4 linked regions of the Homo sapiens genome follow. The protein of the gene in region 3 interacts with the protein of the main gene of each other region in a pairwise test. Each region holds a gene or a part of one and is shown on either strand. Other genes may lie near its edges. The genes, in order: ABI2, PLSCR4, ATP23 and CTNNA3.

Region 1 (3,315 bases), on a different chromosome or scaffold from region 3:
TTAGATGTTCCCATTATTTATTTAAACAGCTTTTTGCTGAGAAAGCTTAGTGGATTAATGAGGCAGAGGGTGTTTTGAAATCCAATAAATAGTTCCCACAGGCTGGGTGTGGTGGCTTATGCCTGTAATCCCAGCACTTTCGGAGGCCGAGGTGGGTGGATCATGAGGTCAATAAATTGAGACCATCCTGGCCAACATGGTGAAACCCCATCTCTACTAAAAACACAAAAATTAGCTGGGCGTGGTGGCGCACACCTGTAGTCCCAGCTACTTGGGAGGCTGAGGCAGGAGAATCACTGGAACCTGGGAGGCAGAGGTTGCAGTGAGCCGAGATTGTGCCACTGCACTCCAGCCTGGTGACAGAGCGAGACTCCATCAAAAAAAAAAAAAAAAAGTTCCCACAGCTCACCACTACAGAAGCAGGGAAGACAACTATGCAGAAAACAGAGTTAGTGGCGGTCAGCAGGAATGCAGCTGGTCTTTTGGACCCCTACGGGATGGGGGCAGTGCAGAAGACACTGGTGAAGTCCTTTATACTGAAGACCTGTGGTTGGGAGCAGGGGTAGTCCATGGGTCTGCTGATTTTTTTTCCCTATTTAGTACTAATGTGTGTGTGATCTTTGTTTTACAAACAGTACCTTTTGGGTTTTCTGCATATTTTATAATTTTTGTACAGTTTTGAATTCTATAGATTGTCTTGGAAGGATACTGTGTGATGGGTCAGGCACACAGTAATTGGAGACTTTTAATGTATGTAATATTTCATAGATTGCATGCTATTAATCATCTGTGAGGGTAGTATTTTTTGTTTTATTGTAAGTTTCCCTCTTTTTTTATAAATTAAAAGATGGTTGGTATTAGGAATTTCAAATGAATGCAGAAAATCTTACATGCTGTGTACTATTAATATTATAACAGACGATCCAAGTCCAAAATCTGACCAATAAAGCAACCATTTTATCAAGATAGAGGGATTCTAATGGGAGAGGGGATTCTTCCCTCCTGAAGTTTGTGTGTCCAGTCCCCTTAAAAAAAATGAATAGTTGTCTTTTCTTGTCATATTAATACTCGAAAGTCCATGGTGGTATTAATGAAAGTACACTTTATTGTTGCCTTTGAACTTACGGCCAAGGCAATAAATCAGAAACAAAAATAGTGCCAATGTGTCAAAATCGACATCTGAGAGATTCAGCCTCCCATTTGGAATAAATATGAATCTTCTAAGCTATCTTGTTTAATATTTTCCATCATTTAGCTACTTCCTATCTCCCTCAGAGGCGCCTGCTGTTCCCATTTTAGAGTTGACAGTGGCCTGCTAATTTTGCTATGTTCCTAAAAGTTACTGGGTGTGAGACATTTTCATCCCCTCCTTTTTCCTACTGCTGGTGTTTATTATCCAGCTAGACAATATTTTATGCATATTTACCGTGATGTCTGGACCGTACCTGTGCTCCTTGGCAGTTTATGTTGAAGATAACTAAAGATTTTTCTCTTTGGGAGGCATCAAAATGATGGTAGTTTGCTTTTATCTTTTTATGTTCATTTTCTTTTAGTAGGTGACCTTTCTGCATTAAGAACTGTTTTTATCTTTTACTACCTTTTCTTTTCTCCTTTGTGGAGACAGCATGACATGTCCTGAAGGTCACCTTTGCCTTTGAAAAAGGTTTGATGGAGGAATTCACAGGTGACTGACAAGTCTTTGAAAAGAATGGGATCTGCTCACTTCTGGTCTTTTTGGCCGGGAACTCCTGATTGGTGTTAAGGTGGTAATTTCCCCCATATAAGATTTAGAATCACTGAGTTTGAGCTAGATGAAATTTTTAAAATTTCTGGTTGTCTCATTAGACTGATGAGGTGAGTTTTCTTCTTCATATGAACAGCTAGTTAATAACAGCAGAGTTCTCACTCAGTGCTCAGTACTTAATTTTCCACTGCACCACAACTGTCTTAACTAAATGTGCTGTATTTTTCTTTAAAAGTTAAGAGTTCTATTTGGTGTTTTCAGGAATATACGTGAAAAGACATGCCATGTTTTGGTAAATACCATCAGAGTTGTGTAAAGGCGTGTACTAAGTGCAATCTTAATTTGTGGAAATAATCTTCATTTACCCCTCCTAAAACTACACTCAGTATAAACACTTTCCCATAAGGTGTGTGCAGTAAAAATGTTATATTACTCCAACACTGGCAGGAGCACAGCACAGCAGCCTTATTGGAGAGAGCCTTATAAAAGTGATTAAATGGAGGCATTGAGCTCATTACCTTTAAGTTTACTTTGTGCTGACCTTTGTTCCTGTTTTGAGAATCTCATATAATTATTAAAAAAAAAAAACAATTAAAACGAAACGGCGGGGCCTAGCTGTGTATAAATGATCCTTGCTGAATATCTTAAGGTTTTTTGTAAGAAAAAAGAAAAACCAACAAAAAAAGCTTATTTTCACATTAAAATGAAACCTCTTTTGCAACTTAAGAATTCTATGGAAAAGCAGTTTTTATCATATTTTGTGTCCATGCACCATTTTTCTTAAAATGGCTTACAAAAAAGAATGTAAACAATTTGTGATCTGGCCAGTTGTACTTTTAGCTCCCAGAGGGAGAGTTGGTGGTATTATGAGTTGAGTAAAAACCATCCAGGGGAACTTGAGGGAGCAGTCTGTTGCCAGTAATGTTCCTTGTGTGCCATTAAACCACCTCCAGATGAGTGGAGGAACATCACTTTTTAATTTTTTAATTGTATTTGGAATTGTTGCCGTGTACTAAGAACTTGACCTAAATAAAATCCCACAAAGTATATTCAGGTGTCTTGTTAACTTATTTATATAAATAACCTCTTTTTCTAAGGTGGTATCTTGAGTTTACGTGTTAGGGATAATCTGACTTTTCTGTTGCTCTAAACCAGGGAGCTGCCTTTTATTACTGAAGAAGTCGTCTTTTTAAATTTTCAAAGATTTAAAATGTTGAGCTTTAAATTTGATCTCAAGTTTCTTCCCTGAAGACAGCTGTTCTAATTAAGAACTTTCTAATCCTGTTTTTGCTCCACTCGCACCTGGGGTTTTCTTACCACTTTTCTCCAAATCTAATTCTGTTAATGTACAGTTTTTTTAATTCAACAGACAAACACTGAAGATGGGTGTTGACTAAAAAATATTGCAGACTGGTCAGAAGTGAATCTAAAAGACAAACCACTAACTAGCCTGTGCTTTGTTGCTATGAGAGCCTAGATTATAAAAGAATTTTCTAATGATGTATCTGAGGGTAGCAAGTAAGTTTGTCTTCACAATACCCAAAATGATGTTTCAGCTTTTCTCACTTTTC
Region 2 (7,039 bases), on a different chromosome or scaffold from region 3:
AGCTAATGAAAATGATGGGTGGTGGTAAAAAGCAATGGGCTAAGGCACTCAGTAATTTACCCACTGTATTGTGTTTTGTTCTCTTTTGTGCTTTTTTTGATGTTAACTGTTTACTTCTAAGCAAATAACACAACTATCCTCTATGATAGTTTTTCTATTTCCATTTGTACAATTCTTTCAAGAAAACATCTTGAATGCCTTGAAGTTCAACATAAATCCTTATGAAAAACATACTCATCCCACTATAAACATCCTTGTACTTGCTGTTTCCCCTTCATATTTCTGAAACTGGTATCACTGTTCTTATAGTTTCACAAATGGCATCTGTCATCACTGACCCATCTCCTTTATTCACTCTGGTCTGCTTTTTTTCTCTCTTTGTTGGATCCCTATGGTCACATTTCATAAGAAAATAATTTGTATTTTCATGGAGTACCTGAACTAAGTATTCCAGACCAGGAGGGCAGTTTGCCATAGGAGTTGGCCCTGGCATCCATGTTATTGGAACAGACTGATTTGGCATAGGATATTTGCCAGGCTGATACCGGACAGGATGGATACCACCAACTGGCTGGTACAAAGGGAAGGTACTGGGTTGCTGTGGACTGTAGTATCCCATAGGCAAGCCTCCTGGGTAGCCAGTAGGTGGAGGGACAGCTGTTCCAGGGGGTCCTGTGTTCAAAAGAAATCAAAGTGTTATATATTATTAACACTAAAGTTAGCATAACTTTTTACATGCGATGAAATAGATCACACGACATCCACTTAAATATAACAACTTGTTCCATTTTTGATTCACACTTTATGCAGATCATGGTTGCATATGACCCAACGATGTATTAGGGAGACTTATTTACATATTAATTCATTTAATCCTCTTAAAGCTTATAAGATAATTATTCCCATTTCAATGGTACAAAAATAAGTTTTGAAACATTAGAAGAAACATGTTAGCTTCTTAATAAATTAGGTTCCTCCTTGGAGATAATAAACTTACCTAATGAGGTTGTAGTGGGATTAATTACTAACGTATTAATTACTAACGTATAATTACTAACATATAATTACTCCTGCAAATTTTTGTTATTATGTCTATTGTTATTGTTTGTGGTTACATAAATAATGTCTACTTCATTTCAAAGGAGTGCTTTTAATGAATATTTTAGGTTGCCTTGACCCAATCGCTTGTACATATCTTCATCATCGAGTTCTCAGACTGGTCCCCAATCCTGACCTCTTTTAGATTCAATTTCTTAAAGTTATTTTCTTAGTAGTTATGCTGCTATAACAAAATAAGCACAAACTGAGTGGCTTAAACAACAAGCATTTCTTTCTTATAGTTCTGGAGGCTGGGAAGTTCAAAGATAAATGTTAGCATGGTCAAACCTGGTGAGAGCCTTTCCTGGTTTGCAGATGTTCACCTTCTTGCTATATGCTCACAGAGTGAAGGGGGAGAGAGAGAGACAGAAAGACAGAATCCCTCTCATGTCTCCTCTTATAGGGTATGAGTGCCATCATGAGGGCTCCACTCTTTTGATTTAATTTTCTCTGAAAGGCCCCACTTCCAAGTAACATCACATTGGGAAATGGGACTTCAATATGTGAATTTGGGAGGGATATAAACATTCAGCCCACAGCACTTATCCCTCTATCATTTCTCCCCATTCCACCTTCAATCAGAGATCTGATGAATTATCTTTGTCATTATAAGTCCATCAAGGAACCTAGATTTCCTTAAATGGATACAAGATTTTATCATGCTTTAAGAGCACAGTCTACATATTCAATGCAATTCCCATCAAAATACTATCACCGTTCTTCACAGAACTAGAAAAAACAATCCTAAAATTCATATGCAACCAAAAAAGAGCCTGCATAGCCAAAGCAAAACTAAGTAAGTGAAAAGAACAAATCTGGAGGCATCACATTACTTGATTTCAAATGATACTATAAGGACATAGTCACCAAAACAAGATGGTACTGGTATAAAAATAGGCACATAGACCAATGGAACAGAATAGGGAACCCAAAAATAAACCCAAATACAGCCAACTGATCTTTGACAAAGCAAACAAAACACAAAGTGGGGAAAGGACACCCTATTCAACAAATGGTACTGGGATAATTGGCTAGCCACATGTATGAGAATGAAACTGGATGCTCATCTCTCACCTTATATAAAAATCAACGCAAGATGGATCAAGCACTTAAATCTAAGACCTGAAACTATAAAAATTCTAGAAGATAATATCAGAAAAACCCTTCTAGATATTGGCTTAGGCAAAGACTTCATGACCAAAAACCCAAAAGCAAATGCAACAAAAGCAATGATAAGTAGGTGGGACTTAATTAAACTAAAGAGCTTTTGCACAGCAAAAACAACAGTCAGCAGAGTAAACAGACAACCCAAACACAATCTATACATCTGACAAAGGACTAATATCCAGAATCTGTAACGAACTCAAACAAATTAGCAAGAAAATACAAACAATCCCATCAAAAAGTGGGATAAGGACATGAATAGACAATTCTCAAAAGAAGATACACAAATGGCCAACAATTGTATGAAAAAATACTCAGCATCACTAATGATCAGGGAAATGTAAATCAAAACCACAATGTAATAACCCCTTATTCCTGCAAGAATGGCCATAATCAAAAACTCAAAAAATAACAGATGTTGACATGTACGGAGAACAGGGAACACTTCTACACTGCTGGTGGGAATGTAAACTAGTATAGCCACTATGGAAAACAGTGTGGAGATTCCTTAAAGAACTAAAAGTAGAACTACCATTTGATCCAGCAATCCCACTACTGGGGTATTTATCCAGGGGAAAAGAAGTCAAAAAAAGATACTTGCATATGCATGTTTATAGCAGCGCAATTCACTGCTATAATACGGAACTAGCCCAAATGCCCATCAATCTACGAGTGGATAAAGAAAAATGTGGGATTACATATATATATGATGGAATACTACTCAGCCATAAAAAGGAATGAATTAATGGCATTCACAGCAACCTGGATGCGATTGGAGACTATTATTCTAAGGAAAGTAATTCAGGAATGGAAAACCAAATATTGTATGTTCTCACACGTAAGTGGGAGCTAAGCTATGAGGATGCAAAGGCATAGAAATGATACAATGGAATGGACTTTGGGGGCTCAGGGGTAATGATGGGAAGGGGGTGAGGGATAAAAGGCTACAAATTGGGTTCAGTGTATACTGCTTGGGTGGTGGGTGCACTAGAATCTCACAAAATATCACCACTAAAGAACTTACTCATATAACCAAATACCACCTGTTCCCCAAAATCCTATGGAAATAAAATATTTTTTAAAAAGAGTACTCATAAAAATGAATAAGCACACAACAGCTAATGTTTGACTTTAGGAATTTTTTTATCAAGGTCTCTTAAGATAAGCAGTGGTAACTTTGCATTTCACTATGTTTTTTTAAAGTCAAAGAATTGCCAACAATAAGTATGAGAATGCCATTACTGCATATCTATCTAGGTCTGGTTACCAGGAATTTTTTGAATAACTTTGATCATTACTAATTTATTTTTGTTTCACTTTCCAAGTTTTTAAGATTAATTAATTAAAATTTATAAATAACTGGGTCTTGGTTGTCTACCCAGAAATATGCAACAGACCCTAACTTATTGCTAAGGTCTTGTAGCTCTAACTGAAATCCTGTGAGTAGTAGAGCCACAAGCAGCCCACAAGTGATGTTGTCTGAACTGTCAGGAAGGCCAGGCTCAGATAAAGAAAGGTTTTTCTCCTTTAAGAGAGAATTTAAGGAATAATGTCCTGTGGTTGAAAACAAAATAAGTTATGTAAGTCAAGATATTTTATGTTAAGATTTCAGTATAGTCGTCCCTTGATATTCATAAAGGATTGGTTCCAGGACTCCCTCAAATACCAAAACCTACAAATGCTTAAGTCCCTTATATAAAATGGTGTAGTATTTACATGTAACCTACTCACAGCCTCCCATATACTTTAAATGATGTCTAGATTACTTACAATAGCTAACACAATGTAAATGCTAATATAAATTGTTTTTGTGTTATTTTTATTGTATAATTTTTATTGTCATTTTTAATTGTGCTTTTAAAATATTTTTAATCCACACTTTTTTGAATCCATGGATGAAGAATTCACAAATATAGGGGTCCAACTGTGGATCTATTTTAGTTTAAATTAAATAAAAACAACTTTTTATGAGCAGGGAATACCAGCTAAGACTTGAACTGTAAAATCTGAAGCCTTAGTGACAAGACATGAAGGCAATTTTTAAAAATGGAACTAGATTTTTCAGATTTTCAAAGGCAGATGTTTAAATTTAGAGAAAAAAATCACCTCAACATATTGTTTCTTAAATTGTGGCTCAATATACCAAGTCCTTCAAGATAATCTGGAGTTCTTAGTAAAATTCCAGATTCTGAGCCTCATTCCAATCTATTGCAACAGGATCTCTATGGCAAAACTTGAGATTAACAAAACATTTTATTTCATTGATCCTTTTTTAAAATGTACAATGTAGTGGTTTTAAGTATATTCTCAAAGTTGTGCAACCATCACTGCTACCTAAACCCAGAATTTTCATCATACCAGAAAGAACACCCATACCCATTAGCAGCAATTTCCATCTCCTCTTCCCCACAGTCCCTGAAAACCACTACTATCTGTGGATTTGCCTAATCTACACTTTTCATGTAAATGAAAACATACAATAGGCCTTTATGTCTGTTTTTTTTTTTACACTTGGCATGTTTTCAAGGTTCATCCATGTTGTAGCACATATAAGTACTTAATTCCATTTTATGGCTGAGTAGTATTCTATTGTGTGGATATATCACATTTTAGGTATTGTTTAATCAGTCAATGGACATTTAGGTTGCTTTCACTCTGGGCTATTATAAATAACACTGCTGTGATCCTCCATGTACAAGTTTTAGTGTGGACATGTTTTCAGTTCTCTAGCTATGAGTGAAATTAGCTGAAATATTTAGTAACTCCATTATTAACTGCCAAACTGTTTTCCAAAGTGGCTTTACAATTTCATGTCCACTTGCAAATATGAGAGTTCTACTTTCTCCACATCCTCCACCAATACTTGTTATTGTCTGTTTTTATTTTAGTCATCTTAGTGGGTATGAAGTTGTATCTTATTGTGATTTTTATTTGCATTTTTCTGATTACTAATGATGTTCAGCATCTTTTCATGTGCTTATTGGCCATTTGTATATCTCCTTTGGAGAACTATCTATTAAATCTTTTGCCTACTTTAAAACTGAATCATTTGTCTTTTTATTGTTGCATTATAAATGTTCTTTATATATTCAAGATAAAAGTCTCTTGCCAGATAGTTTGCAAGTGTTTTCTCTCATTGTGTAGGTTGTCTTTTCTCTTTGATAGTGTCCTTAGATATACAAAACTTTTTAATTGTTATGAAGTCCAATTTATTTTTTGTTGGTTGTTTGTGCTTTAGAGTGTCATATCATATCTAAGAAACTATTGCCTAATCCAAGGACATAAATACTTACATCTATATCTTGTAAAAGTTTTATAGTTTTCACTCTTAGACATAGGTCTTTCAAACACATAGATCTTTGATTCATTTAGAGTTTTTGTGTTTAGGGTGAGACAGTTTCAAATCATTCTTTTGTATGTTGATATTCATTTGTCTCAGATCCTTTGTTGAAAAGAGTATTCTTTCCCTATTGAATTATTTTGACATGCTTGTAAAAAATCAGTTGGCTACAGATGTTTGGGTTTATTTCTTAGACTCTCAATTCTATCTCATTGGTCTATATGTCTATCTTTATGCTAGTACTGTGGTATTGACTTCTGTAGCTTTATAGTAAATTGGAAATTGGGAATTGTGAGTCCTCCAATTTTTTTTCAAGATTGTTTAGGCTATTCTGAATCCTTTACATTTCCATATGTATTTGAGGAATAGCCTGTCAATTTAAAAATTCCACTGTGATAAGAATTGTGTTGAATCTGTAGATCAATTTAAGGAGCATTTCCATTTAACAATATTTACTTTTCAAATCTGTAAAATGCCTTTCCACTTACGTAGTCTTCTTTAATTTCTTTCAACGTTTTATAGTTTTCAATATGAAAGATATTTTACTCCTTTTATTAAAGTTACTTCTGGGTATGTTATTTTTAATGTTATTGTATGTGGAATTATAATTTTAATTTCTTTTTACATTTTTCATTGTTAATATATAGAAATACTTTTGGATTTCTGTATTATGATCTTATATCCTAACACACTGCTGAACTTGTTTATTGTGCTGTTTGTGGGTATATATGGGTTTTTTTGTTTTGTTTTTTTTTGTTTTTTGGGTTTTTTTTTTTTTAGACAGGGTCTCAGTCTGTCACCCAGGCTGAAGTGCAGTAGTATGATCATAGTTCACTGCAGTCTCAAATCCCTGGACTCAATTGATCCTTCTACCCTAGCCTCCAGGTAACTGGGACTACAGGAGTACAGGAGTGTACCACTGCACCCAGCTTAGACTTTTTACATATATAGGCTCATGTCTTCTGCAAATGGAGATGGTTTTGTTTCTTTCTTTCAATCTGGATGAATTTTCTTTCTTTTTCTTGACTAATTGCTCTGGCTAGAACTTCCAGTACAATGCTGAATAGAAGTGGCAAGAAAGATACCCTGTCTCATTCTTGATCTTAGATGAAATGAACGTTTTCAGTCTTTACTCCTAAACATAATGTTTGGTGTGAGTTTTTCATAGGTACTCTTTTATCAGATTGAGGGAGTTCCTCCTATTTCTAGTTTCTTAAGTGTTTTTATCATGGAGGATGTTGTATTTTGTCAAGTGTGATTTCTGTGCTTACTGATGTGGTCATGTGGTGTTTGTACTATATTTTATTAATATAGTACATACATTGATGTGTTTTAATATGATATTTAATGTGATAAACCAATCTTTTATCCATGGGATAAATCCCACTTGGTCATGGTGTTTAATCCTTTTTTATGTTCCTAAATCTGGTTTGCTAG
Region 3 (7,067 bases):
CCTCAAGGAACAGGTAACTGTATTCCAGGAGAGGTCTGTAGAGTATCTGGCCAGCAATAGCACAGAGGTTTCCCTGTAAGGGGACGGGGAGGCCTAGACGATTCCTGAGGGCCCTTCCACATCTAAGACTCTATGGGCCCGTGACTACTACAGGAAAGTACAAGGAGCCCAAATGCCTCTGATATTAACTTTTCACATAGGCATCTTGTCTGAGAATATAAATGCACAGCCAATTATATGATGTAACCCAAAAAAAGTGAAAAAGAAACTAAGGTTTAAAAAAAATGTTGAAGGCAAAAATAGGTGAGAAAAAGAAATGTGAGATGAGAAAGTCAGGTATAGGTTACTGCTTTACCAACCTGCCCCTTGCAAGAGTGTTCACAGTAGAATAATTATTGTTAACAATACGTATTATTGAGTGAATACCAGGTAGCAGGCACCATATTAAGCACATTATTATTCATGCAACTAGGAGAATTTTACAAAATTAAAACAGTTTCAAAAGTCTGTAGTCCTTGTACTTAAAAAAAAAAAAAACCATGGTTTAGTACTTCAAAAAGGACCTGCAGCAATATTTAGAATAAAATTGCTTTGGTGAAAAAAAAAAAAAAAAAAGAGACTCCCATGAGGTCTGGTTTCCACCACCACGCCCCACCCAGGGATAGCATTTTAAAGCTGCAGGTTGACACTTTAATACCACCAAAAGACCCTCCCAGCCACCCTGCCCTTGGAAGATCAAGGTCCATTGATTCCTACTGGGGCTCATGTTCAGCACCCCACCTTCCTCACATCCTATCTATTTCCACTCTTCCTCCACTGTGTGGCCCTTCCACTGTAAAAACAGCTACCATTTATTCAGCTCAGCTCCTGATATGCTGGTACTTTACATTCATAAAATCAGTACTTTTTTTTTTTTTAGACAGGGTCTCGCTCTGTTGCCCAGGCTGGAGTGCAGTGATGCAATAACAGCTCACTGCAGCCTCAGCCTCCTGGGTTCAAGCAAATCTCCTGCCTCAGCCTCCTAAATAGTTGGGACTGCAGGCATGAGCCACCACATCCAGCTAATTTTTTTTATTTTTTGTAGAGACAGGGTCTCCCTATATTACCCAGGCTGGTCTTAAACATCTGAGCTCAAGCAATCCCCCTGCCTTGGCTCCCCAAAGTGCTGAGATTACAGGCATGAGCCACCGTACCCAGCCCCATAAAATCTATTCTTCACAACAACCCTAAAAAAGGTATTTTCCCCTTCTCTTTTTTTACAATAAGGATAGTGAGGATCAGAGAAGTTAAGTCACCTTCCACACCTGAGGAAAGGGATCCGCATTTGAACCCACATCTAACTCTGCAACCCATACTCTTTCCACTCTATTCCACTTTGAAGCACCTTCAAGGCAGGGTGCTAACTCATCTTTCTACTTCCCCCACCAGAACCTGGGAGGCACTCAATACATATTTGTACAGTAAATACAATATCATCATTCTCTCCCCTTTTACCCTCAACTCCCCTTCCTCCTCCTACCTCCCTGAGTCTCTACAAGCAGGTAATCCCAAGAAGGTTGGAAAATCTTTCGGTGGTTGACTTTTGAACTGTGACTGACTAGCTATGAAATAGTAACCTTGCTTTGGGACAAGTATGTTTAAGACTAATTTTCTGAATGTATCTGAAAGTAAACTTAAGAAGTCTATGTCAATGTAAAGGAATTAAGAAATCTTCTCTAGTGCAATGTCTCTGGGACGGGAGAGAAATTTGTCAATGGGCAGTTGTGTCCCTGTTTAACCCACAGCAGTTCTTAACCTTTGTGGGGTCGTTGGCCTCTTTGAGAATATGATGAAGCTATTAACTCTCTCCCCCGACCAAAAAAAAATACACTTTGGGCCGGGCGCAGTGACTCACGCCTGTAATCCCAGCACTTTGGGAGGCCGAGGCAGGCAGATCACGAGGTCAGGAGATCAAGACCATCCTGGCTAACACGGTGAAAACCCGTCTCTACTAAAAATACAAAAAATTAGCAGGGTGTGGTGGCGAGCGCCTGTAGTCCCAGCTACTCGGGAGGCTGAGGCAGGAGAACGGCGTGAACCCAGTAGGCGGAGCTTGCAGTGAGCAAAGATCGCGCCACTGCACCCCAGCCTGGGCGACAGAGCGAGACTCCGTCTCAAAAAAAAAAAAAAAATGCACTTAGGGGCACACACACACACATACACACGATTTCACAGACCATTTCAGGGATTTCTACGCTCTGAAGCCCATTCATGCATGAACCACTTCCAAGGAACGGTAGGTTTGCAAAACTGCTTTTATATTTTTACAGCCTTGGTATGCCTTAATTACATTTTTACATTTTTACAGCCTTTGTGTGCCTTAATTAACCTGGCTGGCACTTTAAAACTTGGCCTCACCCTTACCCTGAAGTCACAGTGTGGCTGCATAACTTATGTAAGAAATCGGAGGATCTGTCACAACAGTGAGTGACAAAAAAGGGCAGACAAATTCATTCCACAAGCCAAAAACAGCGACGAAAAGGGTCTCAGCGCCACCTCTAGTGGGGAAACTGAGCCTCAGGCTCCCAACCCAGCCCCCATGATGCCCAGTCTGTCTAGACTCTGTGCTGAACCTGAAGCCCCTGGCCAGGTGTTGCCCAGGCCCTTCCTCGCCCACCCGGTCTCAGACCCATTCTGTGGAACCACAGCCTCCAGGTCATGGCTCCTACTTGTCTCCAGCGTCTTCAGGAGCCTAAGCTGGCACTTCTGGTTGCTGGTGAAGAAGCTGGAGAAGAACCCTTGCTGGGGATTCCCCTGGGCCAGACGCTCGGGGAAGACCTGGCAAGAGACGTGTTGCTGCTGCAGCTGCTCCCCTGCCGCGGGGCCCCGCCGGCGCTCGTCCGGAGCTCCCGCCATGCCTCCCGCAGACCTCGCCGCTGCTTCCTCCTGGCTCAGGCGGCCAGAGCGAGACTGGGAAAGGTAACCTCCCTCCCGCCAACGCGACCGCCCAGGCCCTCCCTCCGCAGGGAAGAAGGGCAGCCTGGCTGGGCTGAAGACGTTAGGCGGGAGGGGGCTTTGAACCTGACGGGGAGCGCGGGAGGCGGGGCGAGAGGCGAGGGGCGGGGCGAGAGGCGAGGGGCGGGGCGAGGGATGAGGGGCGGGGCGAGGGCATGGGGCGGGGCGCGGGGCCCGATGCTGTTGGGCGGAGCTGGGTCTTGCGACTTCCCTCAAAGGCTGTAACAACCCGGCTGCCGCGGATTTCGCTGCTGCCCTCCCAGTGTGGGTGACATGTCTTTATAAGCGTTGTTCTGCAGCTTCCTGCTGCCTGCTGAGCTCTAAGGGTGTCCCGCCTCCTCGCAGACACTCCTTCCTCACCTCGGGGCGAATATTGGCCACTAACTGCTCTTGTGCCGCCGAAGGTCTCGGCCATCCTCCCACTCCCTGCCTTCTTCCGGGGCAAGCCAGTTGTCATTTCTGGCCCGCCACTTTCCCGACCCCTGCCATCCCTCAGATCCACTCTGCCCAAAGATGCCTCTGGCCATATTGAAAGCAGTGTTTTTCAGAAACGTTTTAAAACTATAAAGAATGACTAGTCACATCAAAATCCTCAAAATGTAGGAACCAACTACATTTTTTCTTCCCACCTGTACCCATTCGTTTACCCTACTCTTCTGCCCCACCCCCCACCAATAACTCCCTGATAACAAAGCGCACCCTGTTTACTTCTACCTCTCAGCCTTAACTCATACTGTCATTTCCATCTTTAAGCTCCTTGCCTCAGCCCCTATGATTGGGGCCCAGGTCAAATCTGCCTACTCCACAGGGCATTCCCAGATACCTTAATCAAAATTAATGTCTCCTGATCTCCCAATGTACAAAGCACTTTGTACCTGTTAATCATTTTCATCGTAGCCTGCCAGGTTTTATCCAATTTGTGTGTTTCTCTTTTCCTACTAAATTATTCCACTCAGCTCACACATTTATTCAGCACCTACTATGATGGGCCAGGCAAGGTGTAAGAGACTGAGGAAACACATGACTAAGAAAATTGCTAAAGATGAAGAGCAGCATGTGGTTTATGTAAGAAACATATCTGAAAAATATAGGCTCAGCAGGCCTTTAGGGTTATGAACAGTGCTTTATGTGTCATAGATGCTCAATATCTAAATTGAGTGGGATGCTAGGATAGTCATTCATCTGGAATATTATAAAAATACAAACAACTCCTATGTACATAGACTATTAAAGCCAGAAGTCAAAAAAAAAGTAACTACTTTTTAATTAAATTCACCTTGGATACATTATTTCCAATCCTCACTACAACCCTGCAAAGTAAGTATTATCTCTAATTTGCAGATAAAGTGGGCTCAGCAAAATTCAATAATTTATCTAGGACCACACAACTAGCTTTCAATCCAGTTATTGAACTAAAACACACATATGGAAAACTAAGCCATTACAATTCAGTGTGATTAGTTTGGAATACTGAAGGCAGGCTAGATATGCCTAGAAATGGACCATAGCCTATATACATTTGAAATACTATTTGGATTTTTTTCATGCTTTCTTTTTTAATACATAGATTCAGGTGGTTTATGTGTAGGTTTATTATACAGATATATTGTGTAGTGGTGAGGTCTGGGCTTCTAGTGTACCCATCACCCAAACAGTGAACATTGTACCCAATAGTTAATTTTTCAACCCTCACCCTTCCCCTCCCACTCTCCCCACTTTTGGAGTCCCCAGTGTCTATTATTCCCCTCTGTATGTCCACGTGCACTCAGTCTTTAGCTTCCACTTATAAGTGAGAACATGGGGTGTTTGATTTTCTGCTTCTGAGTTATTTCACTTAGGATAATGGCCCCCAGCTCCATCCATGTTGCTGCAAAAGACATGATTTCATTATTTTTATGGCTGCATAGTATTCCGTGGTGTATGCATAACCACATTTTCTTTAACCATCTGTTGGTGGACACTTAGGTTAATGGTTGATTCTATGTCTTTGTCTTTTTGTCATAACAATTTCTTCTTTTTTTTTTCTTTTTCAGAGACAGGTTCTTGCTCTGTCACCCAGGCTGGAGTGCAGTGGCGTAATCATAGCTCACCACAGCCTTGAATTCTTGGGCTTAAGCAATCCTACCACCTCAGTCTCTCGAGTAGCTAGAACTACTGGCATGCACCATCATGTCTGGTTAACTTTTTAATTTTTTGTAGAGATGGAGGTTTTTTGCTATATTGCTCAGGCTGGTCTCAAACTCCTGGCATCAAGTGATCCTCCTGCCTCAGCCTCCCAAAGCTCTAGGATTACAAGCATGAGCCACCACACCCAGTCACAATTTGTTTTCCTTTGGGTAGCCAGTAGTGAGATTGCTGGGTCAAATGGTAGTTCTATTTTTAGTTCTTTGAGAAATCTCCATACTAGTTTCCACAGAGGTTGTACTAATTTACATTCCCACCAACAGTGTATAGGCAATCTCTTTTTTCTGAATTCTCATCAATATCGGGTTGTTTTTTGACTTTTTAATAATAGTCATTCTGACTGGTGCAAGATGGTATCTCACCGTGGTTTTAATCTGCATTTCTCTGATGATTAGTGATGTTGAGAAGTTTATCATGTTTATTAGCCACTTGTATGTCTTCTTTTGAGAAATGTCTATTCCTGTCTTTTGCCCACTTTTGAATAGGGTTATTTAGTTTTTTCTGGTTGAGTTCCTTGTAGATTCTGGATATTAGTCCTTTGTTGGATGCACAGTTTGTAAATATGTTCTTCCATTCTGTAGGTTATTTGATTCTTTATCTTACTATGCAGAAGCTTTTTAGCTTAATGAAACTCATTTGTCTGTTTTTGTTTTTGTTGCATTTGCTTTTGAGGACTTGCTCATAAATTATTTGCCTAGGTCAATCTCCACAAGAGTTTTTCCTAGGTTTTCTTCTAGGGTTTTTATTGTTTCAGGTCTTAAATTTAACTCTAATTCATCTTGAGTTAATTTTGGTATATGGTGAAAGAAAGGGGTGCAGTTTCATTCCTCTGCATGTCTATCCACTTTGTGTAGCACCATTTATTAAATAGAGTGTCTTTTCCCATTATATGTTTTTGTTGTCATTGTCTAAGATCAGTTGGTTGTAGGTATGTGGCTTTATTTCTGGATACTATTTGCAATACCCTTCAGCTACAGGAATAAGTAAAAACGTACAAACCAAAAGCTGCAACATTTCCTTACTAAATTAGCTAAAACTGTTTCAATACTCATTGTTGAAGAAACAGATGGAAAAAAATTCATACCACAGTATCAATGGTTGTCTAGGTATTGGAATTTTTTTGTTACATTCTCCTGAAATTTTCTAATGTTCCTCAATAAGCATGTATTACCTTTATAATCAGAAAAATAAACTTTAAAAAATCAAGTGGGCTTTGGATGCCATGTGTAACTTCATCTGTATACAGTATAAAGACATAGGTATGGAATAAAAACACATTAAGGAAGAGATAATGAACAGCAAATACAAATGAGTTTTAAAAAGAAAAAGAATTACCACAAAGAAATTAGAGCAAGGGCAAAGATTTAGCTATAAGGATTTTCATTTCTCCATTGCAGCACTAATTGAGAGCAAAAATGGCCAGGCCAGTGGCATGTAATCATAGCTATTTGGGAGGCTAAGGCAGGAGGACTGCCTGAGCCCAGAAGTTCAAGACCAGCCTGTGTGATACAGCAAGACACCTCCTCCTCAAAAAAAAGGGGCGGCAGGGGAAGACATCAATTGTTTAAATATCCAACAAGAGGTATAATGGAATATATACAACCATGTTAAGTGTCTTTTTTAAACAAAATATGTTCATTAAAAGTTTTTGGGTGTTTTGTTTTGTTTTTTTGTTTTTTTGTTTTTTGAGCCAGAGTCTTGCTCTGTCGCCCAGGCTGGAGTGCAGTGGCGCCATCCCGGCTCACTGCAACCTCTGCCTCCTGGGTTCAAGCAATTCTCCTGCCTCAGTGAGCTGGGATCGCGCCACTGCACTCCAGCCTGGGCGACAGAGCAAGACAACAGCTCAAAAAAAAAAAAAATTCAGGCTGGGCGCGGGTGGCTCATGCCTG
Region 4 (7,393 bases), on a different chromosome or scaffold from region 3:
AAAATAATGTGGTTAAAAACAGTATTTAAGCATGTGAAAAATCAGATGTATCGGCTAACAGTCCTGTTCACCTTCAAAAATTCTGCAGCCTCAATTATCTGTCACTTTCCATTAGATTTGCAACTTTGCTAAACTCCGGAGTTCCACCCCGCTGTACCATCTCACTTAAAATCCAGTATCCAAACAAGAATCAGAAAATCACACTTTTTAAATCTCTAGACTAGCATTCCCATGAGCCAATGATCCATAAATAAACACTATTTTCAAGTTTTCATTACAAAGCGCATAATTTCTCTTCAGGCCAGTTTGGGTTGCCAACTTCTCTTCTTAAATCTTAATCCCTTCTATTCCAAAAAAAATAGAAACATGCAAACAGAAGTTCATGGGGAATAGAGAATGAAACTCCCATCCTTCTGTAGCTATGGTTTTTCTCTAAATATTATTACTGAATAATAAAAACTTCACAATTTAAAAAGTTTTTTAATACAGGAAGAATATATTATTTGATAATTCATAACTCTACCTCTCACTTCACACCACATAATATTGATATCTCTAATCTCTCCACTTTGATTACTTGGGACCAGTAACCACTTCCAATAATTAGTTGTATTTATCACTAATTCCTTAGCTTTCTTCCTTCTACTCTATTTACACAACATGGTTCTCAAACTCAACAATGACAGAATTAAAACTTATCTTCTCTGACTCCTACCATAGCCACGCCTAATTCCATTCTCATGTTTTCCCTATAGAAAAACCCAATACTGAATTGCTCCTCTAGCATGTGCCCTCTATCCCTTTTCTTTCTAGTCTGTTGCCTACAGATTTTCTCCAAATACTTCTAATTTCTCCAAAGATTCACAATAAGTAAAGAATTTATTCTTCCTATTCCTATTTCTTTGTCACAGTTGTATCATAAAAGTCATATAAATCACTATGTCTACATGGTCTTCTAATAAAGTTACTTATACATTCTGTTATTTTCATGTGCAAAGTAACGTAAGTGATCAACAATACTATCTATCGGTTTCAGGCAGAGCTGAAGTATTTTCAACTCTGACATGTAGCTTTGTTGATATCTGTAAAAGTTTATTGAGTGGAAATTTTGTAGGTAGGAGAGATTCCATCCTTCTAAACACTAAGTATTTTGGTATCTATGTGCCTGATAACAATGTTTTGCACATCATAGACAATAAATATATCATTTGGTAGACTAGGAATTTTACAATGCTTTAAAAGAATAACAGTAAAAACACATCTTAAATATCACAACTTTTACCTTCAAACATAGTGTTCTCTAATCCAACACTTCTACAGTTAGAAACAGAGATTAAGGAAATTATCTTAAACATATCTACAACATACATATACACATAAGTAAATAAATACACAAAGATGTTTACCATAGCATCTAGATGTTCAGCAATGATTAATAAAATTATATTCATTCACTTGAACAAATGTTACACAAATTTAAAATAACACCACTGTAGAATAGGTAATATTCTGTGGAAAATGTTTTGGTATATGGTTAAATGAAAAAGCAAGGTTCCAAATTTTATCTATACTATTATTGCAATTATTTTTAAAGCCATCTAGAAAAAAAAAGACTAGAAGGAAACACATCAATGAAATTACAGGAAATATTTTTCTGTGCTTTCAAAATTCCTACGATGAACATTTAATGCTTTTATAATGAAAAAAAGTTTTACCAATCTTTACTCAAATAGGAAGATTTAGACTATGTGTAGGAGGTAACAAATGGGAATAACTTTGTCTATACTGTCTGTATTTTAGGTTTCTCCATTTAACAAACTTGTCCTATGGTTCTACTGAGATAATTTTTTATAATGGACAATGAAATTTTAATAGCACACTCAAATATGCCATTCAAATCTGACCATGGATAATCTGAATCTTCAAATCACAACTATTCTCAATATGTTGAGCTTTCAATCTGTCTAAAAAGCTAGCCACAAACCCAGAACCAATGCAAACTTGAAATCCTGCTTTTTCCACTTTGTTTTAAGCAAATCATTGCATTCTCACGTTATCTCCAGAGATCTTAGTAGGCACATATCAGTGACTCAAAACCTCTACAGTAAATGAACTTTCTGATGTCTAACCCCAATTTCTTCTTGTTTCCATTTGAACTCATTTCTTTTATTTGTCTTCCGTGTAACTGACAGCAGCTGCTCACAATCATTCAGATCCCATTAGATAGTGACCTTTTCTTTACATGATTGATCATTACATCTCATGATCATTCCATACAGTGATTTTCATTTGACTATAACTGGTCATCAAACAGTTCTGAGAGCATTCCTCAACCTCTTAATATTCCTTCCAATTATAAAACAAATAGACATTAAATTCAGAAATTAATGCTTTTTGCCATTATCTCACTTGAAACATCTTCCATTTACTATGAATTAGCTTTTGGTTGAAAGTAAAATCCCTTCAAACATATTCCATCTTTGCTTCCTTTTCCCCACTCCCATGCCAAAGCACAAGCATCCAGGCCATATCTTATCTTTTCCTGCACAGTATCCAATCGGCTTTTTATAGCCAGAAACTCTCTGAATGCAAAGCACGACCTTGGCTACCAGCTTCCCCTGGCAATAGTTCGAAAGTTATTTATAACTTTAAAATTAGCGTGAAAGCCTACGTTTCTCATAACTAGTCAAAACATTCCTATTTCATACAATAATGTGATCTTCCTCAGTTCAGAAGAAAACCCCAAATTTTAAACCTATGATTATAACTAAGACACAGGAATTCAATGCAGAAATGAGAATTCGCTGAAGTTCAGCTCTTCTCTTTACAAACTTGATTCTTACCTTTCTGTTTCTTCCTATAAAGTAAATGGGCTTAAAATTCAGCTCCCGTAGGGAATTTTCCAAAAAGAGCTTTGTGGGGGACGGAAAAAGGCTTCTTGGTGGTCACAGAGTTACAGAGTACCAAATTGAGAGGCAGATGACAGTGGGGCAGTCAATTTCGCTGAGCGTTGTTCACCCAGGATAAGAAAGAAAGGGGAGGTTACAAGCCAGGGTGGGTGGTATCTAATCCTGAACCGCTAGTCACTGACCTCACTGACAACTTGTTACTGAAAATACTTCGTTGAAAAAGGCCAGACACATACTTTGCCTAGAGACCTACAAACATAGCTCTGAATAAGTTTAGATTTGCATTTCTCTAGTTCCTTTCCAAAAGAAGAACCTCTTCTATCTAATTAAAGCCAAAGGCTGGAATTATTGAAAGTGAAAAATGATAAAGCAGGGAAAACAAGAGTCCAGGAAATCCTCACATCAAAAGATCAATTATGTAAAATTCAATGTCTTCAGAACCCTAGAGATGATGGCATCAAGGCCATGTGTCACATCTGAGATCGTATTTTTCTTCTTCTGAAATATTACCTGTCTCATCCCTTGTACCAAGCATCACACTCTCTCCTTCCAGTATTTATGAGGAACCACATCATTATCAGTAAAGAATCTAAACTGAAGATTTACCAAAAACTCAATAGGTTAACCCATTATTAAATTTAAGCCACCAAAAAAAAAAGTCTTCTCCACCAAAATTTATTTTTTCTCTCTATGACTATTCTTTTTCACATTTCCTTTTCCCTTTTTTTTGATATCTTCTCCCTCAATATCTTCACATCCACTGAAACAATCTTTATCATTTCATCAATTCCTTGACATCCCACTCGAACTTCTGTGGCATTTCCTTGGACATTACCATTTTTCCGACTTTCTTCTAATAGCTTCTAAAACAAGAGGTGCTAACTAAAATATGAACTACTTGTTTGAGTTTTGGCAGTCCTGTTCTTAAAAGGCTGAATTCAAAATAAAAAGAAAGCATTTATTTATTGGCTCTCCAGATACTCTTAGCACAAATTTCAGGGAGCCAAGAGGAAAGGCAGGGTCTGGGAACTGTCAGAGAATCAACTATGAAAGGAGTTCATTTTATATGATTTTCAGGATAGCCTTCAAAACAACTGTATTTTTATGTAGCTACCTTTAAAATGGGCATAATTGACAATATATTTATCTAAAGATTCTTAGTTGCTAACATGCTATCCTCCCCAGATTTTTTTAAAGCAGCTTTTTCCCCCTGGAGAATCTAGGAATAGCATCTTTTCACAGTGAAACAAAGAGTAAGTTTTATGTCTCTCAATCCATCTTTTCTTGAATAAAGAAATCACTTGACACTTGCAAAATAGCAGGTTTTGTTTTAGAGCTTTAATAATGAATGTTTTCCAAACCAGGACTGTTGAATTGAGCCCAAGATGAGATATCCAAATTCTATCATAAGCCTAGCTTGTCCTGCTGTGAAACCACAATAAGTTACTTACCTGCCCTGTACCTCTCCTTTCCACCTACAAAATGTAGATGAGAACTCTTATTCTTTTCATTTGCTTTTCAGAGGATATGTGAATTAAATGGATAAAAGCTGAAGAGCTTTAAATTACACTGAACTCTTCAGAGATGCAATACAGATAAAACCTTCTTACAGAATTTGGTGTTATCAAAACAATTAAATATTATAAATATCTGAAATGTAATTTTAAAGAGCTTTTATAGTGGGTTTTTTTTTAATTCCTTCATAAAAATATCTGCAGCCTCCAAGGTAGTATTTAGCTGAAGTATTTCCCACTATAGCCACAAGAGGTCCCCTCCTAGCAATTCAAATCACGTTGGATTTGTTGATCACAGGCCCCATGGTCCTCTGTATTTGTATCAGTTTGCTGACAGAAAACATATATCACCTATGTCAAATTTCCATAGCTAACTATAGGGTAGGAGACAAAAGCAGAGAAATCTGCCTTTCTCTGTGTGATCGCTGAGGCATGCTGGAGGCTAAATAGTTCCTGTAAACTACACAGCCCCTGCATTTTGCATCCTGGCCCTCTTCCAGATTTTCACAGTAGTTCTTTCTTGTCACCTTGCCCAGTCTTGTTCAGTATTTATTCTCCTTCCCTATTTACTTGTTTCCTTTCTTTATACTTTGCAAACTTTAAAATTTTGGCTCACATGCCTCTTGCAAGCAATCAAACATTGAGGGTAGAAGAGCTGGGGAAAAAAAAAAGAGAGAAAAAAGAGAGAGAATAAATCAGGGCCATTACTAGCAATTCTCCCGAGGTAATCAAAAGTAAGTTTTTTCGTTCTGGGCATCAGGACCGGCCCCAAACAAAGTCATTCAATTGGATGTATTGAGAAGCCCCTTGATGCAGAGCCCTGTGTTAGGCGCCAGCTAGAAGATTACAGGAGAGAAGGGAGGCCTCCAAAAAGAAGATAATTCTATCCCTGTCAGTAGCCTCTCTTGGAAAATAAATCCTCCAGGGTGCAATATGTTCTTTAGTCAGAATGGAGTAGTTTCTTCTTGTCAATAAAATCCCTTATAGAATGAAAATCACTTTTGCATGAACCATGAGTCCATTTCATCTGTCCATAATATCTCAAAATACTGGCAATTTCAGGTTCGGGCTTTAAAAATATGTAATTTTCTGAACAGCCATAATACCTTTCTAAAATGAGATTTAAAGCTAGGAATAATCCCTGTTTGTGATAATTAAAACCATTTTTTTCAAAAATATGTGATAAATACTTCTGGCACCTTGTCAGGTATTTTAGGTGAATCTAAATGAATCTGCCCCTGATTTGAAGGTCTTATGTACTATTAATACAAAAAAAAAAAATGTTTCTCACTCTCCCTTCCCAACCATCCTTATTATTAGCAGCTAACCAACTCTCCTGCCTCACTAAGAAGAACAGAAGCCATCTGGAAGATGTTTCACATCTTTCCATCATCAAATCTATAAACCCACTAACACCGAGCCTCATCTTCTCTACCCTCCCTCCTATTAAAATGCAAGAAGTCCTCTTGCTCTTACCAAAGGCTAATCTCTCTTGTGTGCTGGATCCCTTCTTCCCTCACCTTTTCAAGGACTCTGCTCCTTCACGATCACCTCACACACTGCATTATCACCCTTTCTCCAATGATCAGTGCAAAAATATGCCACAGGACTTCTACCTGAAAATTTTCAAACAAACAAAACATACTTTTACCCTACAACTCCCTGTGGTTGCTACTTAGTTCTCTGTGCCTTCATCATAATACTTCCCAAATGAGTTGTCCACCACCCCTATGTTTTTACCTCTCACTTCACAACCCACTAAGATGATTTATTTCCCCTTCACTCCCAAAAGGGTCATTTTTAAGTCTATCAACAACCTCCAGGTGGCCAAACCATTCTGTCACCTGAGGGGATAACACATCCTAACCTATGGCTTCAAATGAGATCTTTAAATGACATAGGATATTGAGTGGGACTTCTCCTGTTGCCAATAATTGGTGACTATGGCTCAAAATGAAAGACAATGAAGCCACCCAGGTACACGCTAAGGAATTTCCAGTATTTGAGGATAGACATTTCACTCAGGGATTACTAAGAAGCAGTTAAGAAAAGAGAAGGTGGAGCCAAGATGGCTGAATAGGAACAGCTCCGGTCTACAGCTCCCAGCATGAGCGACGCAGAAGACGGGTGATTTCTGCATTTCCATCTGAGGTACCAGGTTCATCTCACTAGGGAGTGCCAGACAGTGGGCGCAGGACAGTGGGTGCAGTGCACCGTTCGCGAGCCGAAGTCGGGCAAGCCACTGCCTCACTCGGAAAGAACAACGGGTCGGGGAGTTCCCTTTCCTAGTCAAAGAAAGGGGTGACAGACGGCACCTGGAAAATCGGGTCACTCCCACCCTAATACTGCGCTTTTCCGATGGGCTTAAAAGACAGCGCACCAGGAGATTATATCCCGCACATGCTTTGGAGGGTCCTATGCCCACAGAGTCTCACTGATTGCTAGCACAGCAGTCTGAGATCAAACTGCAAGGCAGCAGCGAGGCTGGGGGAGGGGCGCCCGCCATTGCCCAGGCTTGCTTAGGTAAACAAAGCAGCCAGGAAGCTCGAAATGGGTGGAGCCCACCACAGCTCAAGGAGGCCTGCCTGCCTCTGTAGGCTCCACCTCTGGGGGCAGGGCACAGACAAACAAAAAGACAGCAGTAACCTCTGCAGACTTAAGTGTACCTGTCTGACAGCTTTGAAGAGAGCAGTGGTTCTCCCAGCACGCAGCTGCAGATCTGAGAATGGGCAGACTGCCTCCTCAAGTGGGTCCCTGACCCCTTGACCCCCGAGCAGCCTAACTGGGAGGCACCCCCCAGTAGGGGCAGACTGACACCTCACACGGCCAGGTACTCCTCTGAGACAAAACTTGCAGAGGAACGATCAGACAGCAGCATTCACGGTTCACGAAAATCCGCTGTTTTGCAATCTCCGCTGCTGATATCCAGCAAACAGGGTCTGGAGTGGACCTCTAGCAAACTCCAACAGA

What was found.
Region 1: the proteins of ATP23 (region 3) and ABI2 interact in binary tests that used the Homo sapiens proteins (3 or more experiments, as listed by UniProt).
Region 2: the proteins of ATP23 (region 3) and PLSCR4 interact in binary tests that used the Homo sapiens proteins (3 or more experiments, as listed by UniProt).
Region 4: the proteins of ATP23 (region 3) and CTNNA3 interact in binary tests that used the Homo sapiens proteins (3 or more experiments, as listed by UniProt).

What each region holds. Positions count from the first base shown.
Region 1 is NC_000002.12:203,429,377-203,432,691, forward strand, and holds the end of ABI2 (abl interactor 2), read left to right. Parts: 3' UTR 1-1,624; coding exon of another isoform or gene 1,625-1,629; 3' UTR 1,630-2,793; downstream 2,794-3,315. UniProt on the Homo sapiens protein: Regulator of actin cytoskeleton dynamics underlying cell motility and adhesion. Functions as a component of the WAVE complex, which activates actin nucleating machinery Arp2/3 to drive lamellipodia formation.
Region 2 is NC_000003.12:146,206,090-146,213,128, forward strand, and holds part of PLSCR4 (phospholipid scramblase 4), read right to left. Parts: intron 673-7,039; coding exon 437-672; intron 1-436. UniProt on the Homo sapiens protein: Catalyzes metal ion-induced ATP-independent rapid bidirectional and non-specific movement of phospholipids (lipid scrambling or lipid flip-flop) between the inner and outer leaflet of the plasma membrane and participates in the redistribution of phospholipids between membrane leaflets.
Region 3 is NC_000012.12:57,937,530-57,944,596, reverse strand, and holds the start of ATP23 (mitochondrial inner membrane protease ATP23 homolog), read right to left. Parts: upstream 3,031-7,067; 5' UTR 2,896-3,030; coding exon 2,709-2,895; exon of another isoform or gene 2,700-2,708; coding exon of another isoform or gene 2,669-2,699; intron 1-2,668.
Region 4 is NC_000010.11:67,693,157-67,700,549, forward strand, and holds the start of CTNNA3 (catenin alpha-3), read right to left. Parts: upstream 3,040-7,393; 5' UTR 2,844-3,039; intron 1-2,843. UniProt on the Homo sapiens protein: May be involved in formation of stretch-resistant cell-cell adhesion complexes.